Regions from separate parts of the Homo sapiens genome. Here all the other regions are reported to be linked to region 3. Evidence: microRNA targets listed by miRTarBase, many of them from high-throughput screens and not tested one by one. Region 3 holds a microRNA gene; each other region holds the end of a gene's coding sequence.
What was found. Region 3 holds the annotated microRNA hsa-miR-6792-3p (CUCCUCCACAGCCCCUGCUCAU, at 2,424-2,445, shown strand). A microRNA usually pairs through its seed, bases 2 to 8, with sites in the 3' UTR of a target mRNA and lowers its output. Matches are read on the target gene's strand: a 7mer-m8 pairs with bases 2 to 8, a 7mer-A1 pairs with bases 2 to 7 and ends in A, and an 8mer does both.

Region 1: miRTarBase lists SPTA1 as a target of hsa-miR-6792-3p. Seed matches in the 3' UTR shown: 7mer-m8 at 1,932-1,938.
Region 2: miRTarBase lists FCRL4 as a target of hsa-miR-6792-3p. Seed matches in the 3' UTR shown: 7mer-A1 at 4,022-4,028.

Annotation. Positions count from the first base shown.
Region 1 is chr1:158,605,675-158,612,983 of GRCh38, reverse strand. It overlaps SPTA1 (spectrin alpha, erythrocytic 1), which reads left to right. Exons shown (of 52, transcript NM_003126.4): 51 at 23-167; 52 at 1,595-2,280. The coding sequence ends at 1,720. OR10Z1 (olfactory receptor family 10 subfamily Z member 1) reads right to left here. Exons shown (of 2, transcript NM_001004478.2): 2 at 470-6,658. The coding sequence starts at 6,545. The coding sequence ends at 5,604. Among named protein-coding and RNA genes, the nearest start is that of OR10Z1, 4.1 kb to the right of the region's middle.
Region 2 is chr1:157,570,163-157,577,471 of GRCh38, forward strand. FCRL4 (Fc receptor like 4) reads right to left here. Exons shown (of 12, transcript NM_031282.3): 11 at 5,537-5,568; 12 at 3,585-5,448. The coding sequence ends at 5,362. Among named protein-coding and RNA genes, the nearest start is that of FCRL5, 21 kb to the left of the region's middle.
Region 3 is chr19:7,615,057-7,622,365 of GRCh38, forward strand. It overlaps MIR6792 (microRNA 6792), which reads left to right and starts at 2,383; the gene lies at 2,383-2,449. It overlaps CAMSAP3 (calmodulin regulated spectrin associated protein family member 3), which reads left to right. Exons shown (of 17, transcript NM_020902.2): 12 at 127-266; 13 at 362-663; 14 at 1,467-1,566; 15 at 2,270-2,382; 16 at 2,487-2,605; 17 at 2,696-3,248. The coding sequence ends at 3,001. It overlaps XAB2 (XPA binding protein 2), which reads right to left. Exons shown (of 19, transcript NM_020196.3): 12 at 7,275-7,309; 13 at 6,079-6,241; 14 at 5,790-5,980; 15 at 5,491-5,613; 16 at 5,219-5,390; 17 at 4,890-5,019; 18 at 4,691-4,800; 19 at 4,469-4,591. The coding sequence ends at 4,530.

The DNA of each region.
Region 1 (7,309 bases), not on the chromosome of region 3:
TCCTGATCCATTTCTCCCACAGGAAGGGCTATGTCTCACTGGAGGACTATACTGCTTTCCTGATTGACAAGGAGTCAGAAAACATCAAGTCCAGTGATGAAATAGAGAATGCCTTCCAAGCCCTGGCAGAGGGCAAGTCATATATTACCAAAGAAGACATGAAGCAGGTCCGATTCTGGTTGCTTCCCCTACTACACTGTCATCCTAATTTGAATTCTGGTCATCTCAGGCCCGGTGGCCTACTTTGAAAAAACCCACCCACTTGTTTTTTTTTTTCAGACCTCCCCTTTCACAAGATGTCATTTGCTTTGGTAACCACTTCATTTTGTCTTGACCCAACTCAAAAACGTACTGTGGTACTCTATTGAATGTGAGAGTCAATTCAAAATCTGCAACTCAGTTTTTAAGGCTATTTCTTTTTTTTTTCCTCATTAATTCAAAGAGCATTTATTGAATGCTTACTATGTTCCAGGCATGAGGAGTGCAAACTTTAGTAAGACACAGTCCCTAAATTCAGGTGTAGTGGGGAAGACAGAACTTTACAAGTTAAAAACACTGTAACAGAAGCAAACACATCTGTCATGGGAACAAAGATGTGGGGAATTTTATTACAACCAGAAGTAATCTCTCTTCTCTCTGATTCCAAGAGCTTTCTTCATTCCTCTCCTTAAAATACTTGCATCAGGGAAAGTATCATCTATGATTAACACAGGGTGAGTGTTGAAGGACGTGCAGGAACTCATCAAGTCATCAAAGGAAAGCCTAAGTGTTTCAGGCAAAGGCAAGTGTGTGTGCAAAGGAACTTGAGAAAACAGATTTTCCTAATACCTAAAGCATAAGGTAAGAAGATAGTAACAGAAAGTGAAAGGGAAAACAATTAAGCAGAAACCAGATTACAAAGGGTCACATACATGATGGTATCGTTTTGCACAAACTCATCCAATTGTCTAAACTCATCAAACTGTACACATTAAAGGTGCAATTCTTTATCAATCATACCTCGACAAAGCTGTTACAAAAAGAAAATGATGTGGTCTTCCAGACACTATCTGGAGCCACCCACCCACACGCTAACTTATTGGAGTCTTTAGGGATCCACTTGGTAATCAAACAGCACAGTGAATAGAGGAACTCTTTGGCATAAGAGGATCATAGGTTCAAGTCCCAGCTCTACCACTTTCTGGCAGTGTAACCACTGGTGAGTTATTCTACCTTCTTGAGTATTTTACCTTACTCATAAAACATGCTAGTCCCCACATCTCAAAGCAGCCAGGAAGATGAAATAGATCAAGTGGTCAACAAATGTTGTTAGGCATATAATTCCTTCTATTTAATAAAACAACTTTAGGGAATGAGATTTACAGAATAATCAAAGTGAGTAAGCTCTCTTTTTCAAGAAAGGGCTGAGATTAAAAGTTAAGTTACTCATTAGAAATTATAAATTTATGAGATAAAAATTGTGTGTAATAGAAATAGGGCTTGCGTCTTCCAGAGACTCTCCATCTCCTGCATTTATGGCGTAATATGGGAAGCCCCAAGGAACCAGCTATTTTGAATCCCTATAACTGTATTTTTCTCTTTTTATACTTTTCAGGCCCTTACCCCAGAGCAAGTGTCATTCTGTGCCACACATATGCAGCAATATATGGACCCACGGGGTCGAAGCCATCTCTCTGGCTATGACTACGTTGGCTTCACCAATTCCTACTTTGGCAACTAATAAGCAGCTCCTCGTGGATCGTAGAAAATCTTAGTGTCGTGGGAAATTTACTGGGGGGCAAAGAGTACAGGCAAATGTGGAAGATAAAGATGGCCTCGTGTGTGTGTGTGTGTGTGTGTGTGTGTGTGTGTGCTTGTGTTTGTGTGCATATTACATTTATTGTAGGATCTTAAAAAATCTCAAGGGTGGGAGATAGAAAGGTTAATAGAGTTGGAGGAGTGGAAGCTATTTTGTATGCAACTAGTCACTGCTGAGGGGTGTCAAAGTTTCTATTTTTATTTGTTCTGTTTTGCACGTCTTTATCATTTTGCTTTATTCCGATTATAGAATAAAGTAATTCTTTTTAAAAATATTTTTTGGGGCAAAGTTAAGTAAAATGTTGAGCTTCTATATTTCTGGGAACTGTACTCATATAAGAGTGGGCAGCTAATTTTACTGTAAAGAAGGGCCATGGTATAGTAGATAAATAAAATCCAAGGCAATTTTCAAACAATTTTTTTAAACTTTGGAATGTGTTTAAATTTAAATTTGAAAATAAAGATATTTGATTTTCTGGGGAACATGAATATTTTAGTTTGTACAATGAAACAACACACAGATCAGCATAACACCTGTTTTCTTCTTGTTTTTTTTCCATACTTCAAAATTATTGTAGATGTTATTACTCTCAGAAAGACAAAATTCCAGCATAGCAGGGCTTTCTCTTGTCCTCCAAGCTCCCGTATTTTCTCTTAAGTTTTAATGTAATAAAAATAATACTTCAATATCCTGTTAAAGTAACAGTTAATAGAATTATTTATAAAATTAAGAATTAATTTTAAAAAAAGAAGAGGTGATGCTATCTTCAAAAATTTTCAGGCCAGGTTTATTCTGAACAGGTTTATATGCCGACATTCTGATTTGATCTATAAAAGGTAATGGTGTCATTTGCTGGTGAGAATTCTTAGATATCTTAATTGCTGTGTATAAAACTGCTAGCGTTCTGCACAAATAGTCCCCACTTACCAATCCATTCATGTTGCCACTTGATTACCATCTTAAGTCTCAGTCCCTTCCTCTGCATAGAAATGAATCTGTGCAGGACAAATCCTGTCATAGGAGCCTTTTTTAAACAAAAAGTTGGTTAAAGCTAAAAAGTTATCATTGATACTAACAACATACAGGTATTTTAGTGATTCTTTTCTTAAATAGTCAAATACTATGGAATATAACAAGCAGAAAGTATTTTCAAAATTAATGTTCACAAATGTCTAAATTGCCTGATTATAAGTTACCAAAAATAGTACAGTTAGAAAAGATATAGGCCATCGAAAATTAGCATTGTTTAATATCACACTTACCACATATGGATAGTCTAAAACTATTTGTGCTGAAAATAATCACAAGCAAAGGTGGATGTGATTCCATTCCCCCAATGCTAACCCTGCCAAAAATTTTCAAGGCCTAAATCAAATTATTAGTCATTTAGTGGGTCAAATGTGTGTACCTGGAAGAAGAGTTTGCCCTTTCTAAGCGCGTAGTCACATACTTAATCAAGAGAGGAAATTTGAATCACCAAACGAGATTTTGAAGACTATTATGTTGTCCCTATCCCAAATCAATTGTTTCAAGGTAGAAACAAATTAGATAGATTCCAAAAACACCTATTTGGAAAAATCCCTCCAAGTGATTTTATACCCTTCCATACTTAAGACTACTACATGTGGAAGTTAGACCTCTAAGTATTACTTAGCAATACTTGAAACATCCTTACTAACCATTCGTCACTGTGCATTTAGTCAATGTTATGCTGGGCAGACTGAATGAACTGGTGAAATGAATTTGCTCACATGGCCTCAGTGCAATGAGGCATTACTTCTTCCAATATTGAGAACTTCAGAGTAGATGGCCTTTCTCCCCTGATGAGGCCCTTTTGGCTATCTGACTAACTCATCTACTTGTCTTCATCCTGTTCTCTTCTCTGAGCTCTAGCTTCCTTCCTCTCAAATTGTTTTCATCAAATTCCAATTAGAGGATGTATTTCTTTCCTGAAAGCATGAAAAAATATGGATTTCTGTCTGAAAAATATCTTCTCGGCCTAAGGTCTTTCCTTGTCTCTCAAGCCATGCCCCACTTCTATCTCACTGCCAAATCCTGTGAATTCTACCTTCTCAAAATCTCATGTTTGTGATTTCCTTCAGTCTCTGAATGTCACTATCCATATTCAAGCCTCTTTGCCTTTTTTTAAGCTGATATCCATGGGTTTCTTGCTGATCTCCTTGCCTCTGGTTTCTCTCTACTGAAATCTATCATCCCCTTTGCTGCTGGATTAATCTTCCTGAATCCCTTCCCAGATGCCTCTCTCTGTTCAACGTTTTACTGTGCCTTATCTCCTATAGACAAAAGGACCATGTCTGAAGCAAGGTATTCAAATTATTTCAACAAGTAAGTCATGACTCAAACTAACTTCTCAGCATCATTTGTGAGTTGTTTCCAGCCCCTCTGAATAACTCACACACATTAAACTAGGCTTATATTGTCTTACCATCAAGCCTTTGGCTATTACATTCTCTCTTCTGAGAATGTACTTTCTCCCCAGTCAGTGCATTCAAAGCTCACCCATCCTTTAGGAACAAGTTCAGATACTATTTAAGACATGAAGTCTTCTCTGATCCTCCACCTAGAGTAAACTCTACCTAAACTAAAAGCCAATATCTTTTTCCTTCACACATTTTAATAGTAGCAACTGGAATTTATTGGACGATCGCTATGATCCAAGGGTTGTGCTAAATTCTTTGTATGCATGATCCTGTTTAGTCACCAACCATTGTAAAGATAAGACTCGGAAGCTGAAAAAAATGTTAAATAACTTACCTAGAGTCACACAGCTAGTAAGTTGAAGAGTTTGGATTCAAACTCCTGCCTGACGGTCTTGTGAGTTCATTACACTTTCTCTAATAATGTCCGCCGCTATATATAACCACATTATATGTGGAAAGTGGAATAGGCAGAATAGATAGTTCTGCAATAGATTCAAAAGAACAGTATCCAATTTGATAAGCGACCCAAATGAGAAAGGTCTTTGACACTCAAGATTCTGAAGCTACCAGGGAACATTAACAGTTATAAAAAAAAATAGGAAGTAAATATATTTTCTGAAATAGAGTGCACCCAGCTTGGAAAATCAATCAAAACAAAAAGGGCAAAGTAACAGAGTCAGAGATAGTGAGGACAACTATATAAAAAGATGATTCCATGTTTTTGCTACTGTCAATAGCACAATGAGGAATGTATAAGCACATGTGCCCCACTGTATATGAAATAATAGTTGAAATTAAAAAAAATAAAAACATAAAAAGATGAAAGACACCCAGTGGGAGTAAAAATGACCCACCTGTTCATTTAACAAAGCTTTAAACTAACCTGTCAAGCTGATATTCCCCAGGTTTCAAATCTTGGAAGAACATTACAGGTCAAATAGTCTAATTATGTAATGATTTTAGAAATCTCTACAGTATCCCTGATGGGCTCCAGCCAGCCCTGCCTTGAACTTGAACACTCCAAACTTCCCTCATTTTGTTCAGCTCAATTAAAAAATTCTTGATTATCTTAATTAAATTTTTAATTCTCAATGGGTTTCAGTAACTAGGGGTGGCATCTAGGAGGCTGAAAGTTAAAATTCAGATTTTGGGCTCATTTTGAGTTGTGCACAGTGAGCAGAGCAGGAAGCCCCGCCTCTGCATTCCAAGCAGTCAGGGGGAAGGGCAAGAGGCAGGATAAGGCTTTCCCAGAAGATTGGGGGTAGGACAGCTTTGGCCTGAGGCCTTGAATACCTGGCCCTTTGGCTTGGGTTCTTGGTCTATGCCCAGCCTACACAGAAGAAAGTGTCCTATTGGGGTAACCTTCATCCTTTACCCAGCAATCTCCCTCTGAAAGCATTCCTCAGAGCTGTCTGTATAGCCCTATTCCTTAGACTATAAACAATGGGATTAAGGAGGGGGGTCACTACAGTATAGGTCATGGCAATAAGCTGATCTCTCTCAAGAGAGTAGCTGGCTTTGGGCCTCAGGTACACGAAGGAAGCACAGCCATAATGAATAATGACCACTGTAAGGTGCGAGGCACAAGTGGAGAAGGCCTTCTTCTGCCCCTCAGCAGAGGGGATCCTCAGTATTGCTGCCAAGATGTAGGCGTAGGAGATGGTGATGAAGAAGAAGGAGACCAAGAGGACCAAAAGACTGAGGATAAAGATCCTCAGCTCACTCGGGCCTGTATCTCCACAGGCTAGGCTCAGCACAGGTGGCGTGTCACAAAAAAAGTGCTGGATTTCATGGGAGCTGCAGAATGAGAGGTGGAAAATAACTAGTGTCATTCCCAGTCCAAAGAGGTATCCAGTCAGGAAGGAAGTAATGACCAGCTGGGCACAGAGGGTAGGATTCATGTGGCTGGCATAGTGGAGTGGAGCACAGATGGCCACATATCTGTCAAAGCCCATGGCAGCCAGAAGGAAGCAGTTAGTACAGGCCCATGAGGCAGAAAAGAACATCTGGGCAGCACAGCCCACATAGGAGATAGCCTGGTCCCCCCCAGCCAGGCCAGAGAGCATTCTAGGGATGATGCCCAAAGTGTAGCAGGTCTCAGAGAAGGATAGGAAGGAAAGGAAGAGGTACATGGGGGTGTGCAGATGGCTATCCAGCCTGATGGCTATGATAATGAAGACATTGCTGGTCAGAGTGACTAGATACAGAGAGAGGAACAAGGCAAAGAGAAGGAGCTGCAACTCCCCAGAACTGGAGAAGCCCAGGAAGACAAAATCCCTCCAGGAGGTTACGTTGGTCTGCCCCATTCTGAGAGGTATATCCCTGATAGATTTGTTGATTTCTTCCACCTTGCCAGTAGATGCCTAACTTCTTTAAAAGGTGGATGATATGGATTCTTTTTCTCTTGTTCCTGTTGCAACTTAAAAAGGCAGCTCTGATTTAGACTCTACTCAAACTTCAAAAAAGTATTTGTTAAATTAGACACAAATGTATGGGTCCATTCCCATATGACTGTATGTACATATACACATACACAGATGCACAATCACAGACATTCATATGCACATACTTGCACACAAACATATGTATGACTACATACATGCAGGTGTATATATGCTTTATAGCATTCACACATAATTATGCATATCTTACACATTCAAAACTATAAATTATACATTTGCTATTAATGGCCATATCCACAAATATATCAGGCAGGCACATACATTACAAACACATATGTATATAGATAGCATGCAAATTCGTAGATACACACATCACATATAAAGATACACACACCACATATACGTTTATATTGTCTTTATACATACACTATCACATAAGAATACACATATGGACACACCCATATTGCTTGTTAGAACTTTGTGGGGAGGTGGGGAAACTTGATCTTGATGGATTTTGTTTTATAGATCAGGTAACAAAGATCAAGAGAGGTGAAGTGACTTTCTTGAAGTCACACAGAACCAGTATTAGAAAACAAGTATGGTGACTCTTAATCTATCCTTATTTTCCCCATACAATGATGACTCTCTTTAGAGACTATGGAACACAC
Region 2 (7,309 bases), not on the chromosome of region 3:
TTGCTTCTTCTGAGCTATGGCCTTTGGTCAGTCTAATCTTGTAGTACCGAGTGGCAGTTATGCAGCTTTCTGACTTGAGAACTTTTGCAGTAGCAGCAGAGGCCCCATGGATCTTGAGTCAGCTGTGGTGACAGTGGCTGCCCTCTTGTTATGCCAATTTGGCAGTTTGCTTCTGGAAGTTGTTCCTACAGGCTCAGCCTAGAGCCTTACTCTCTAGTCTTTCCACTAATACCCTAAACAAATTCCTTTCTTCATAAATTAGTTAGGGTGGACTCTGTTGTCTGCCACTGAACCCTGACTGGTACAGCAACTGGCACAAAAATGGGTGAATATGATTCTCTTCTATGATTCCAAGCAGGCTTCCAGTTTACTTTCATTTGTGTGCGTATGGTCTGCTCACCTATTTTGTTCCCATGACCCAAAGTTCTTTTCTTTTTTTTTTTTTGAGAAGGAGTCTCGCTCTGTCACCCAGGCTGGAGTGCAGTGGCACGATCTTGGCTCACTACAAGCTCTGCCTCCCGGGTTCACGCCATTCTCCTGCCTCAGCCTCCCCAGTAGCTGGAACTACAACAATTTTTTGTATTTTTTAGTAGAGACGGGGTTTCACCGTGTTAGCCAGGATTGTCTCGATCTGCTGACCTTGTGATCCGCCCACCTCGGCCTCCCAAAGCGCTGGGATTACAGGCATGAGCCACCGCTCCTGGCCGCAAAGTTGTTTTCAGTCATAGTATTGTCATTACCATTTTCTCATTATTGTAGCCATGCCTTCTTTTGTCTCTGCTACTCTGAGACTCCATCATTATCAGGGAGCCTACTTGTGAGGCAATGTCTTCACCTTTGTCCTTGACCTATTTCTGTTATACTTTCCAAAGGTGCTGATACTTTTATCACTAATGTATTTTTCAACGTTCTGTGGAAATACCCTTTTAAGAGATATAGGGTACATGTGAATGGAACATGTGTGATATATCGATATATCCACTGCCACAATCCCATCTCTATAAATCTTTGAATTCTTCCCCTACGTTATACCAAGGACTTGTTATTATCTCAACTTTATTTTTCCAAGGCCATTGTTGCCTACAGATTTTGATCTACCAAGAGAGAAACTAATTAGAATCACTCCCAGCTGCTTGATCTAGTCCACTGAGTCGAGAGTCTCTTCCAAGTGTATCTGTACCAATTCATTTAGCCTCAAACAGAATTATATTCCTCTATCCTTGGTCTACTATTCTTAGCAAAATATACAGATTTCTGCTGTTAAAATTAATAATTAAAGAAATTCTATTAAATCTAATTCTTCCTTTTTGGGGATTTATTGTGCAATCGGGTGTCTGCAACATGTTGGGATAGTATATTAAATTGTTGCTTCTATTCTTTTAAGGAAGAAGCCCAACATTTGACAGGCCTCTGGATCTTGGAAGCAACAGATGTCACATTTGGTTGCTTGTTCTGACTCAATAACTGGATAACTCACAAACCTATCATCCTTGAGTGGACCCCTGAGCAAGCAAGGGGTCTTTAGCTTGTCTAAGCTACAGTGCAAGCAGCACTGACCTTAGCTTTTAGGATCCAGCATATCCAAAGAGCCCAAAACTGTCATGGCTGGTCAGAATGTTGTGTAAAGGCTACAGCAAGGCTCTACAGGAGAATCACAGTTGAGAACCATAAAATTTTGGAGCAAAACTATGTTCTCTTCAAGTAACTTTTCTTTTTCACTGAACACTTGAACATGGCCCACCAGAGACCTGAGCTGTTCCCCATGAACTGGAAGCTGTCTGATCCACAAAGCAAAAATTCATAATATATTGAGGATTATTCCATCATTAAGTGGAAGTGATTTGCAGGAGGTCTCACTCCAGAATGGTCTGAAAGCAATGGTAAGTTGAATAAACAATGAATAGCTCATATTCTGCTGCTCTTTTACCTCTCTGTTTCAACCAGCAACTATGACCTGGTGGTGAGTTCCCTATGACCAACTGACAGAGGAGGAAAAAACAGTCTATCCTGGTTTAAATATGCCCTCACATCAGCTGAGGGTGACAATTGCAGCACCTCAACCACATTCAGGAATCCCTGGAGGATTGTGACAGAGATGGGTATTCCCAGTGGTCCACTTTGACTGGAAGATGAGATGTCCAGAGGTGAGGCTTTACTCTGATTCATGAGCAGTGGCTAGTGTTTGGAGCTGTATGGTCAGGAATTTGGAAAGAATAAAACTGCAAGATTAGGCAAGAATCATATTGTTGGACCTCTTTGAATGGATCCAGAGTATGAGAATATTTGTGTCTTATGAGAATACTCACCCAAGGCCTTACTGAGGAAGATCTCAGGAATCAGGAGGCTGTGATCATCTGCTCTGGCTGAATGTCAGGCAGCCTCTTTCTCCAGTTACTCCAGCAATTGCTCAAAGGGCTCATTAATGAAGCGGCCTTGGTGGAAGGTGCAGAGTTTATGGAAGGATTCAGTAACATAAGGATGTACTCACCCAGGCCAGTCTGACCACTGCTAAGTGCCCAATTGACATACACAGAGGCCAAACCTGAGCCTCTGATGGAGTCAGCTCCTCAGGGGCCTGTGTACTCTGTGGTTGTGGATTATTTGCATTGGATCCTTTCCATCATGGAGAGGGCAATGATTTTCCTTACTGAAATAGTTGATTCATTCATTCAAAAATATCGATTAAACACCTACTATGTACCAGGCAGAGTTCTAGGTACTTGGGGTATATCAATGAACAAAGAGAACACAGTTTGTTGCCCTTAAGAAATCTAGTTTTTAGAGAGATGATATGCAGTAAGTGTAGTAAATCGGCAACGTTTGTTTCAAAGTATGTTTGAAAGTGATAAGCGCTATGGAAAGAAAGCAAATCAGGGTAATGGAGACTGGAGGTGCCAAAGATGGGGGGAAGTAGTTTCCAGATTTACATGTGCCTCAAAGCCTTGAGTCACCAGGGCAGACCTCAAAGCCTTGGTGGATATCAGGGAGGAAGAGCATTCTAAGCAGAGAGCAGCCCATGCAAAGGCCTCAAACAGGCATTTACCTGATGTGTGCAAGAAGCAGTGCAGAAGGCAGCGCTTCCTCAGTGAAGTGCTAAGGGGAAGAATGGCAGAAGACTGGAGGCAATGGGAGCGATCAGGTGGAGGCTTGTGGGCACTTAGGGCATCTGGCTTTCACTGTAAGAGAGATGGGGAGGCACTGCAGGGTTTTGAGCACAGTGACCGCAGTGCTGAGAATGGGCTGTGGGGACGAAAGGGAAAAAGAAGGGAGACACGAAGCCACCACTGTAACGGAAGTGAGCAGCACCTCAGACAAGAGTAGAATAATGGAGTGGTATAACGAGGTGGTCTTCTGGGTGTAGATATTTTAACTCTTTATTATGGAAAATTAAAACTTGCAAAAGTAAAGAATAGTATAAGCCTCCTCTTCTTCCCATAATGTACCCTTCACTCAGCTCCAGAAATGGTGCACATATGACTGATCCTGCTACATCTATACCTACCCACTTCCTACCCACCCTCACCTCATCGGGTTATTTCAAACCAAATCACATCATTTCATCTACTAATTTCATGTACGCCGAATTTACGTTAATAAGCTTTAATCTAATACTTCAGTATAAGCGCTGAAAGTGAATATCCTTTTGCTTTTATAAAAACATCACTACAATAAACTATCACTTATATCCAAAACACACAACAATTTCTTAATATTAGTATACAAATTTTTCTTAGTATTTCGTAGGTAGTTTTATTTTTTCTTAATTTGAGTCAGGATCCAAACAAGACCCACACATTCCTTTTGGTCGACATGTCTCGTCTCATTTAATTTATATGTCTTCTATTTTTCTTTTTCTCTTTTTTTGGGGGTGATACATGTGACAAATTCATACACTCATATAATTTGTAAAGATCAAATCAGCGTAGTTGGGATATCTGTCACCTTAAATATTCGTCTTTTCTTTATGTTGAAAATATTCTAATTACTTTTCTTCATTTTTCTTTTCTTCTCTCTCCCTTTCTTCCTCCCTCTCTTCTTTTTATTTCATTTTTTTCCCATTTATTTGTTATAGAAGCCAGGTGATTTGCCCTATAGAACTTTTTCTCAGTTTATGTTTTGCTGGTTGCAATCCCATAATGTTATTTAAACAAATTCCTTTTCTCCATGCATTTTCTATAAAACAAGTATTCAGTTAGAAAGACTTGAATGGATTCAGTTTTAACACTTGGGGCATGGATAATTTGTAGGTGGTATTGTACACTTCCATCAGGAGACCTCTAATATTTGGCTGCTGGTTTTTGTCAATTATTTAACCAGTAGGTGTATCATGAAATATCCATACAAATTTGTGGCTTCCTATTTCTTTTATTCCTTCTTCATTTATTGCAAGAATTATTCTCATATAAACTAATTAGTAACTCAAAGACACAGTTCCTACAAGAAAAGCAACCTTATTTCCTTTGAGAAGGGAATGGTATTTAGAGAATAAAACCTCTCTGCAAGGAGTGCTTATTGCTAAGGGGTTGGTAATTATTTCAGTGAACAGACGTAGGAAATATTTATCTTTTTTTAAAGGCAGAGTTTATTATGAGTTTATACTAATATTTTAAGTTCAAATTTAGTTTTGGAGAGTTGGTACTTAAGTTTTTAATTTTATATTTGTGTCTCTTTTCTCTAATGTTGCAAATCTTTGTCACTAATGACATTAACATAATTATCATTTGCTTTTGGAAGCGCAGCCTAGAGCTTGCATCTCCAGCTCTTCTGATGTCCTCTTTTAAATTCCTCTCTCTGTAAACCATTCCAGATGGGTTCTTTAATCTGCAACTGAATCCTGACAGTGTAAGCTGTGCAGGCAGAAGTGAAGGGGCTTTTCATTGTTTGCACAGTGCCTGTGCAGCCACTCACAGTTAAACAAACTGATGCAAGTGAGTCTCCAGTGAGACAATGGTTGTAGATGTATTAAGCAGAGATCCAGGTCACCCAGTCTTTTTCATCTCTGCAAATCCCAATTCACCAAAATTTGTGCTTCTGTTTTTCATAACAGTCCTTCTCTCTCTTTATCCCCCTTCTCTAAAGCAGACCCTAGGGAATACATTAGGTCAGGCCCACAGCAAATACTACAGGGTCTTCTCTTAACTGTGGATCCTGGTCATTTTAGTGAAGTCTTTCAGAGGCCATTCCATCCCAACATCAGAGTAGACGAATGAGTATTCCTGGGAGTGAATGCATATGCATGAGAAGAATTAGAAAGCTGGAATGAGTTGATCATTCCAGGGGCCGCAAGGACTGCACTGGGCCTGGGACTTTGGACAAGGGAGAAATCACATGAGTAGGACGTTCTCGTAACTTTTCATTCTCTTAACTTTCTTCATCCTTAGAGCTGATCTTTCCAGCTGAGTTATCTGGGTGTTGTGTCTTTACCTCAGAGTAGACAACTGAGACATCCTGAAATGGAAGAAAGAAGTGGAAACCGAGAGGGAGTGTGAGGCTGCAGGTAATGGTGGAGATAAAACTGTGGGGAAATGAAACTCACCTTATCCTCTAGAAGTGTCCTGGAGGTATTAGCTGTGGACAGAAAGAGAATCACTGGACTATGGGCATAATGATGCACTTAGAACTCAGTCTGTTAGCTGATGCCCTAGAGTCTGAGAGCCACTGGGCCCTGTCCACCTCATCCCCTCCACCTCATCCCCTAACATGTCCTGCAATACATATGACTTTCTGTTCTACCATTTCTTAACCCAGCCCTCTGCAAGTTCTTTTCAAGCTCCATTGATCCGTAAAGTCCTCCATCAATACCACACTAAGAAACCTCACACCCTTCCTCTACCAGATATTGAGAGATAATTTTTTTCTTAGTTTTAGTTCTTGCTTCTCTTAACTTACAATACTGTCATCTCACCACCCCCGATTGTTTGGCAAGTTCCCATTAGAGTACTCCATATGCATGCCCTGTGAGAAAAACTCTCTCCTACATTAACAAGTTCTAGTTCTTGATTTTTATTGCCATGATTTCCTAGAGTTGGAGCCAGAGTGAGAGGTAAGTTTAGCAGATGTGATTTGGTGAACCATGCATATTAGAAATTAAGAGTCTCAGAGTAAAAGGTAGAATTATCAGAGCAGCAGAGCAATTTTATGGAGAGAGAGAGCCTGAAAAACAGATACACTCTGGGGCACTTGAGGTTTCTCTCTGTTTCTTACTGTATTGTTACCATATTCTTACCCCAAACCTTTAGGGGTTACAGATATTTTTAATAATATGATGGAAGCTATGTACTCTCCCCAGAATAATGGTCATATGTACAAAACTTTGCATATGATTTCAGGGGCTTCATGTAAACCTTAAGGAACAGGTGAAGAAACCATTCTACAAATCATTAATAATTCAAGTGTCTGAAATGTAACTAGTCCATCAACAGAATGCTTGGCTTAAATGGTGTTTTGATAAATATGTCAAGGAAAGAGTATGAAGAAAAGCAAAATTATCAAGACAGCTTTATAAGATAAGATGTACTCAATCAACCCAAGAAAGGTAGTGGCCATTCTAATGCTGCCATTCAAAGGGGATCCTGATTAATGGAGGTGGCTCAGGGAACAAAGTGAAAGACAAAACAAGTGATCAGGTGATATATGTTGGTCAAATATAGTAATAGGCTGTGCATGCAGAAAATATAGCAAGACAGAAGACTTGGTCTTAGCTTTGTCCTTTACTGGCTTTGTGACCTTGAGAAAGTCCTTCTCTGAGTCTTATGTGTAATACTTCATTTTCATAGAACACCTTCAGCATCAGGTTACAACTAAAATTCCTAGATTTTAACTTCCCAAGTGAGGTGCCATGGGTGGATTTATACAAGAAATAGAGAGAATTGCTTGTTTCCTTGACTCTAAGAACCCAGGTTAATCAACCAAAGCAAGGAAGTGTGGGGAGGAAAAAAATAAGAAGATTGGTTGAAGCGATGTCTTTAGAAAGATGGATCAGTTTATGTCCAATGTGTCTCTGCTTTAGCTTTCTGAGGTGAGAGTAGCAGGTTATAGCCCCCAGCCTGGTGAAGGAGATCTCAGAAATTCCTCTTGAACTTCTGAAGTGATTTTGAAGTGATTTCCCTGATACTGGGATATAGAGCTCCCACCTCAGAAAGCCAAAGTGGACCATAGGTTGCAGTTACCTAGAGAGGTATTTTTCTAACAAAAGATCTCAATTTGTTAGTGGGTCTTGAAATGGGGTCTGAATAGGATTAAAGAAGTGAAGTAGAACTTCAAGAAACAATTCAGCTTATTGTGGCCAAAACGGACTAACAGGGACTGG
Region 3 (7,309 bases):
GTGCATTTAGAACAATGATGAAAACAAAAGCACAGGTGGGTGGCGGGCAGGCTGGGTGGAGGGAAGATGGGCCTCCAGCCATGTTGGGGGAGGGGGTGGCTGGCTGGACTCGGCGTCTGTCCCCAGGATGAAGACAAGCCTGAGGACGAGATGGCCCAAAAGCGGGCCAGCCTGCTGGAGCGGCAGCAGCGGCGAGCAGAGGAGGCGCGGCGGCGCAAGCAGTGGCAGGAGGTGGAGAAGGAACAGCGGAGGGAGGAGGCCGCGAGGTGAGGCCGGGCCTGCCCGGGACGCCCGCTCCTTGGCCTGTCTGCCACCGCGGACCCCGTGAGCGGTTCTGATGCCGATTCCCTGTGATCTGCAGGCTGGCCCAAGAGGAGGCCCCGGGCCCAGCCCCGCTTGTGTCCGCAGTCCCGATGGCGACTCCAGCCCCTGCTGCCCGGGCTCCAGCCGAGGAGGAGGTGGGCCCCCGGAAGGGGGACTTCACGCGGCAGGAGTACGAGCGCCGGGCCCAGCTGAAGCTGATGGACGACCTCGATAAGGTGCTGCGGCCCCGGGCTGCGGGGTCCGGGGGTCCAGGTCGGGGCGGGCGGAGGGCCACCCGGCCTCGCTCGGGTTGCTGTGACGACTCAGCCCTGGCACGAAGCCCAGCCCGCGGCCTGCTGGGTGAGGACCCTTGGGGGACGGGGCCTGCCCAGTGCCCTTTCCGGGGCTCACTGGGTGAGGCCCCCATGGGTAAGGGGGGAGGGGGAGGGAGATGTAAGCAGGGGTGCCGGGAGGGGGCGGGTATGTGGGGTGACAGGGGGCCTCAGGTGGGGTTGGACACTGTCTCTTGGGTAAAGACTTCCATAGGGGGCCGGGCGCGGTGGCTCACGCCTGTAATCCCAGCACTTTGGGAGGCTGAGGCGGGCGGATCACCTGAGGTCAGGAGTTTGAGACCAGCCTGGCCAACATGGTGAAAGCCCATCTCTATTAAAAATACAAAAATTAGCCGGGCATATGGCATGCCTGTAGTCCCAGCTACTTGGGAGACTGAGGCAGGAGAATCGCTTGAGCCTGGGAGGTGGAGGTTGCGGTGAGCCAAGATTGCACCACTGTACTCCAGCCTGGGCAACAGAGCGAGACTCCGTCTCAGAAATAAGACAAAAAAAAAAAAAAAAGACTTCCATAGGGATGTGGGGTGCAGTGGGATGAGGGGTCTTTCTTCTGTGGCTTCATGGATAGGAACCTTTGGGAGTATGTTTGGGGTGAGGCGTTGCCAGTAGGGGCTGACCCAGTGCTGCTCCCCACTTGCCTGCTGGGCAAAGCATCCTCCCTCATAGAGGGGTCCCCCCATAGGGGTGCTGCAGAGGGCCGAGGGGTCTTGGGCAGGACTGACTCCTCCTGTGTTCCCCCCACAGCCTGCTGGACCGGGTGTTGTGGAGGGCAGGGGCTTCTGGTGGGCACTGACCTGCAATCTCTGTCCCCAGGCTCTCGGCTGAGCAAAATCTATTCCCAGTCCACCCTGTCACTGTCCACTGTGGCCAACGAGGCCCACAATAACCTCGGGGTGAAGAGGCCCACGTCTCGGTGAGTTTAGCCCGCACAGGCGGGGTTCGTATGCCGGGTGGCTTCCCAGAGCCTGGGAGGTGTGTGGGCATCTGGGTGAACCTAGAGGGCGGTATGGCTCGAGTTTATGGATACGCCATGAAGAGATGGAGGGACGCGTGTGGGCACGTGTGCATGGGGCATAGTCTGTACCTGGCAGACAGGACTCAAGCATGTGCCTCAGTGCACTTGAGTGCCAGGTGTTCCTGTGGGAGGAGGACAGCACGGGGCACTGCATGGACTTGGGAGGGTGTGCAGTGTATACCGCCTCCTCTGCAGTGTGTGTGGCCCGCCTTTTTTTTTTTTTTTTTTTTTTTTGTTTTTTTGAGAGGGAGTCTTGCTGTGTCGCCCAGGCTGGAGTGCAGTGGCGCAATCTTGGCTCACGGCAACCTCCGCCCCCTGGGTGCAAGTGATTCTCGTGCCTCAGCCTCCTGAGTAGCTGGGGTTACCCGTGCCTGTAGAGACGGTGTTTCACCATGTTGGCCAGGCTGGCCTCGAACTCCCGACCTCAAGTGATCTGCCCGCTTTGGCCTCCCGAAGTGCTGGGATTACAGGCATGAGCCACGATGCCCAGCCGTGGCCCTTATTTTCCTTGGCCCCTCTGCACATAGGGAAGCTTCCCATCTCTGACCCCACCTCCATCCCATCCTGACCCCACCTCCATCCCATCCTTCTCCCACTGCAGGGCTCCCTCCCCGTCAGGTCTCATGTCCCCAAGCCGCCTGCCTGGAAGCCGCGAACGGGACTGGGAAAATGGCAGCAATGCCTCCTCCCCAGCGTCAGTGCCCGAGTACACAGGTAAGCAGGGGCTCTGGGTGATGTGAGGAGCAACAGGCACCCTCCTCCACAGCCCCTGCTCATTCCTGCTGCCCCCCACCCCCTCCCACTGCCTCACCCTCTAGGTCCACGGCTGTACAAAGAACCCAGCGCCAAGTCCAACAAGTTCATCATCCACAATGCCCTATCACACTGCTGCCTGGCGGGCAAGGTGAACGAACCGCAGAAGAATCGCATTCTGGAGGTGAGCCCGCCCACACGTGGGAGTTGGGGGCTGGTGGGTGGGTGGGTGGCCTGACTTGGCCAGCTGACCATTTCCAGCACTCCTGCCCAGGAAATTGAGAAAAGCAAGGCCAACCACTTCCTGATCCTCTTTCGCGACTCGAGCTGCCAGTTCCGGGCGCTCTACACGCTGTCGGGGGAGACAGAGGAGCTGTCGCGGCTGGCAGGGTATGGGCCCCGGACCGTCACGCCCGCCATGGTGGAAGGCATCTACAAGTACAACTCGGACCGCAAGCGCTTCACCCAGATCCCCGCCAAGACCATGTCCATGAGCGTCGATGCCTTCACCATCCAGGGACACCTCTGGCAGGGCAAGAAACCCACCACTCCCAAGAAGGGCGGCGGCACCCCCAAATAGCCCCACCCGGGCGGTCCACGGGCCGGGCCCTGTGTGCTGCGGCCGCCATCCCCTGGAGGACAGTCAGTCGGTATTCCTGGGTCCTGTCTGTCCCCAACCGTGTCTGGGTGGGGCTGGAGTCTCCACCCTCTGACTTTGAGTCCAGTCCTGCTGTGGGGGCTGAGCTGGGAGGTTCAGGGACTCAGGGCTCAGCTCAGTCCCCTTGTCTGTCCTCCCCCACTTCTTGAATAAAATAATTTAAAGAGAAGTTGAACCTTGTCCCCCCCTCCGAGGCTGGCCGGGGTCCCACACTCCCTGGCTGTGTTTTTAGTCTCCTGTTCTTTCTCAAACCAACTCCTGTCTTCAACCCCCATAATCCCCTAATGCAGCTTCAGCCAGGGCACTCCCAGCCCCCAGCCAGGGCTGTTTCGAAGCTGCCTCTGAACTGATCTCTCAGGCTCGAGGTGTCCCACTGGCCCTTCCTGTGGCCTTGGCCACCCCCGCTTGCTGGATTCTCCTGGTCTGTGTGGCTGTTGTTACTGGCCCTAACCAGCGTTTGGCATGGGGCCAACTTCTAACTTGATCTTGTCTCCCCTGGCCAGCCTGGTGTTTCCAGGCCTGGCATCTACCTCTGGGCCAGTGATTCCAGGTTTCTCTGAGATCTGTGTTTGACAATCCAGTTGCCCCCTGCCATTGCCTGGGTGTCTCTCTCAGATGCAAGGCCTGCCCTGCAACCCAGGCTGGCACTGGCTTCCCAGCTGCCGCCCAGTTCTACACAGCTCAGCCCTCCCCTCCTGTCTCACTCGCTTCTCTCCAGCCCTGTCACCTCCCTGCAAAGTCCAAGCCAATGGCCTGGGCCTCCCCATGTCCCCAGCTGCCTCCTGCCCACACAGCAGCCTGTGTGACCCGTTCGAAGCACAAATCTGATTATATCCCTTGATACTTAAAACCCCTTAATAGCCTACAGCCCGCTAATGGCTTCCCAGGCTTAGGACTAAGGACCACGCCCTGGTCCTGGGCCGTGCACAAGGTCTGGCGCCTGGCCCCCGTCCAGGCACAGAAACGCGTTACTAATCAGTTCCCAGAGCTGGGCCAGAGCCTGCCTGACTCCAAGACTTGAGGGCAAGGGCCAGTCCCTAGTGGGGAACAGACAGTGGGTGCCACCCCAGGGAGGCGGCAGCTGCCTGGGGCCACAGAAGGGCTCTGAGAGGCAGGGGCTGGCGAGACCTGGGCAGCCAGGGGCTGGATTGCCCTTCCCAGGCTACAGAGGCTCAAGGAAGTTTCCGGGCAGGACCCACTCCAAGGCCCCAGGCAGCGGAGGGACTGGCCTCTCGAGTCCAGAACTGGCTCTGCGGGGTGAGGCCGGGCAGTATCTGGCCTGGGGCCCAGCCGCCCCACCTCCCACAGCAGCCAATCCCGGCCCAGGGCCAGGCACTCCTGAGCTGTACTCCCTCGGGCACCTGGGCAGCAGGAAGGAGGCTCAGACCATGATGTACAAACGTAGCTGTATTGGGGAGGGGGTGGGGAGGGGGGATGGGGGAGGGACGGGTCAGTCTTCCTTCAGGCTCCCAAACACTGCGGCTGGCACGCTCTGCTGCTCCAGCCGAACCTCTGTGGGGAAGGCGGGAGCCAGTCACCCTCCTGGCGTTGGCCTGTCCCCCGAGGCCCACCCTGGTAATGCCACCGTCCCCGCCCCAGCCGGGCCCTCACCGTTGGGCTCCAGGTCCATCTCGTCCTCGTCCTCGTCCTCGCCCAGCTGGATCTCCTCGGGGTTGACCTGCTGTGCCAGCTCTGCCAGCTCCTCCCGGGAGGCGTCACTCCTAGGGACGGGCCATGCTGCCTCAGTTCCCCACCCCGGGCCCCCTTGGGACCTGTCCCAGTCCTGTCCCGTCCAAGGATCCGCCCTCACCTCACGAACAGGATCTTGCTCTGGGCGCGCAAGGGCTGGTCACGCTCCGCCTCAGCCGCCAGCTGCTCTGCCCGCTGTTCCAGCAGCTTCATGTCGTCCATGCCACTCTGCCCAGGGGCCAGGTCAGACACTAGGGGGTGGGAGCAGGGGGTCAGCGCCACGGGGGCCCCTCCCACACATCGGACGTTGCACTATCCCAGTCCCCCAGGTGATGGCCCAGCCCTCAAGGAGATTGCCATCAGGATCCGAGGCTCCCAGACCCGGAAAGCCCAGGTCAGGCCGGGCTGAGATGCCCTGGATCAGGAACTCAGCCAGCTGGGACGGCTCACCGGTGCCCGTGGCACTGCCCGAGACCTTGAGCATCTGCGAGGCCATGAAGTTGACCTGCGTGTTGTACGTGGCCTGCACGCTGCGCCGGATACGCAGCATTTCCTTGATGGTGTCCTCATTGCCATGCCGGACCTCAAAGTCCTTCCACGTCTGCCAGAACGCGCCGGTCGTCTGCGTGGGGGGCAGGGCAGGGGTGGGTGTGTGTGCCCGTGAGCTGGCTGACTCCGCCGCAGCCCCCAACCCTGATACCCGTCCCTCCCCACAGCCCTACCCGGGGGTCACAGATCTGGGAGCAGAAGCTGTAGATGGCCCGGGCGCGGTCAATCTCCCCGAGCTTGCACTCCATGTCTGCAAACCGCAGGCACATCTCACGCGCGTGCTCGTCCGACAGCACCTGGACACCGGGGTTGGGGAGGCCGGGAGTGAGGCCGGGGTAGCTCGGGGGCTCCCAACACACCATGGCCATCCCTGTGCTTCCAGAAGGCTCCTCCTCAGCCCCTCCCACCTGCCTGGACCCCTTCCGTCTGCTCAGGGACCTCTGGCCCCGGCCCAGCCCCCCACGGTGGGTACCTCAATGGCCTTCTGGTAGATGCCGCGGGTGTGGGTGACCCCATAGATCTCGGCCGCCCGCTTGATGTAGATGTTGAACATGTCATACTGCTGGGCGGGCTCCACGGCCCTGGTGGCACGCTCGTACACGGCCATGGCATGCCGGGCCAGGCCCCACTCCTCCTCCAGCTGTGCGTACAGCAGGTACAAGGCTGGGCGGGGTAGGCGGGGAGAGGGGAGCACGGTCAGCCGGGGCCAGTCAGAAACCCAGCCCGCCCGCCACCCCCCCCATGCCCTCTGCCCGCCTCACTCTTGGCATATTTTGGGGGGCAGCCGTCCAGAGCCTGTTCAAACAGGTCCCGTGCCCGCTCCAGCTTGCGGCCCCCATAGCGGGCAATGAATTTGGTCAGGTAGGTGCTCCAGATGTCGGACACGTTGGGCCACTTGAACAGCGAGATGCCGCGCTCGTACGCCTGTTACCAGAGGGAGAGTCACATGTGAGAGTCTGCAGATAGAGACCACCAGGCACCCGGGATGTCCTTGGGTGGCGTCTGTAGGGAGCCTGCCAGGAACTCCCTTGGGGCCCTTCCCTGTCCACGCCTCCCTGTCCCTAATGGCAGTTGTGGGGGTCTGTCCTCTGCACTGTCTCCCTCTGTGAGAACCCCAAGAACAGGGGTGCAATGGGACCTGCTAAGCACAGTCTGGCCCCATAGGAGGTGACATGATGGGTGAAGGTGGGTGGCTCCCCAGCTCCGCTGACGCTGGCTGCCTGTCCCCAGGGAGAAGGCCGCACCCCCTGACAGAGGGGCAGGCAGTAGCACGCGTATGCATGTACGACCTCCCCATTTGTGTATCTGTATAATGCCCACACGATCCATAGAAACACACACTCAAACATGACTGCTCCGGCCGCGGGACATGGCCTTCCCACGGACACGCAACCCACCCCCTGGACCCCACAACCCGTCTCCTGAGCAGCGGGGCAGGGAGAGCCCGCACACACTGGCACCAACACCCTCCCCATGAGTCATGGGTGCACGTGGAAGTAGGATTCTGTGCCTGCTATGGAATGAACTGTGCCCCCCTCAAAACATTCATATGCTCAAATCTTAACCCCCAGTACCTCAGAAAGTAGATTCGTTTGAAGATGAGATCACTAAGTTAAACTGAGGTCGTTAGGGGCCACCTAATCCATTATGACTGATGTCCTTTATAAGAAGAGGAAATTTCAAAAGTGACACACACAAAGAGAAGGCCACACAAAGACATAGGGAGAAGGCGGCTGTCTGTAAGCTAAGGAGAGAGGCCTCAGGAGGAACCAGCCCTGCCCATGCCTCGATCCTGGACTTCCAGCCTCCAGGACGGGGAGAAGCTAAATCTTTGTTGTTTAAGTCACCCAGTCTGTATACTGTGTCACACAAGCCCCAGCAGATTCGTAAGTTGCTGAGGACCCCTGGGGAGGGGACACTGCCATCAGGGGCCTCTGGGTCCACCCTAGCCCCTCACCTTGAAGCTCTCCTCGAAGTACTTGTGCTCCTCCA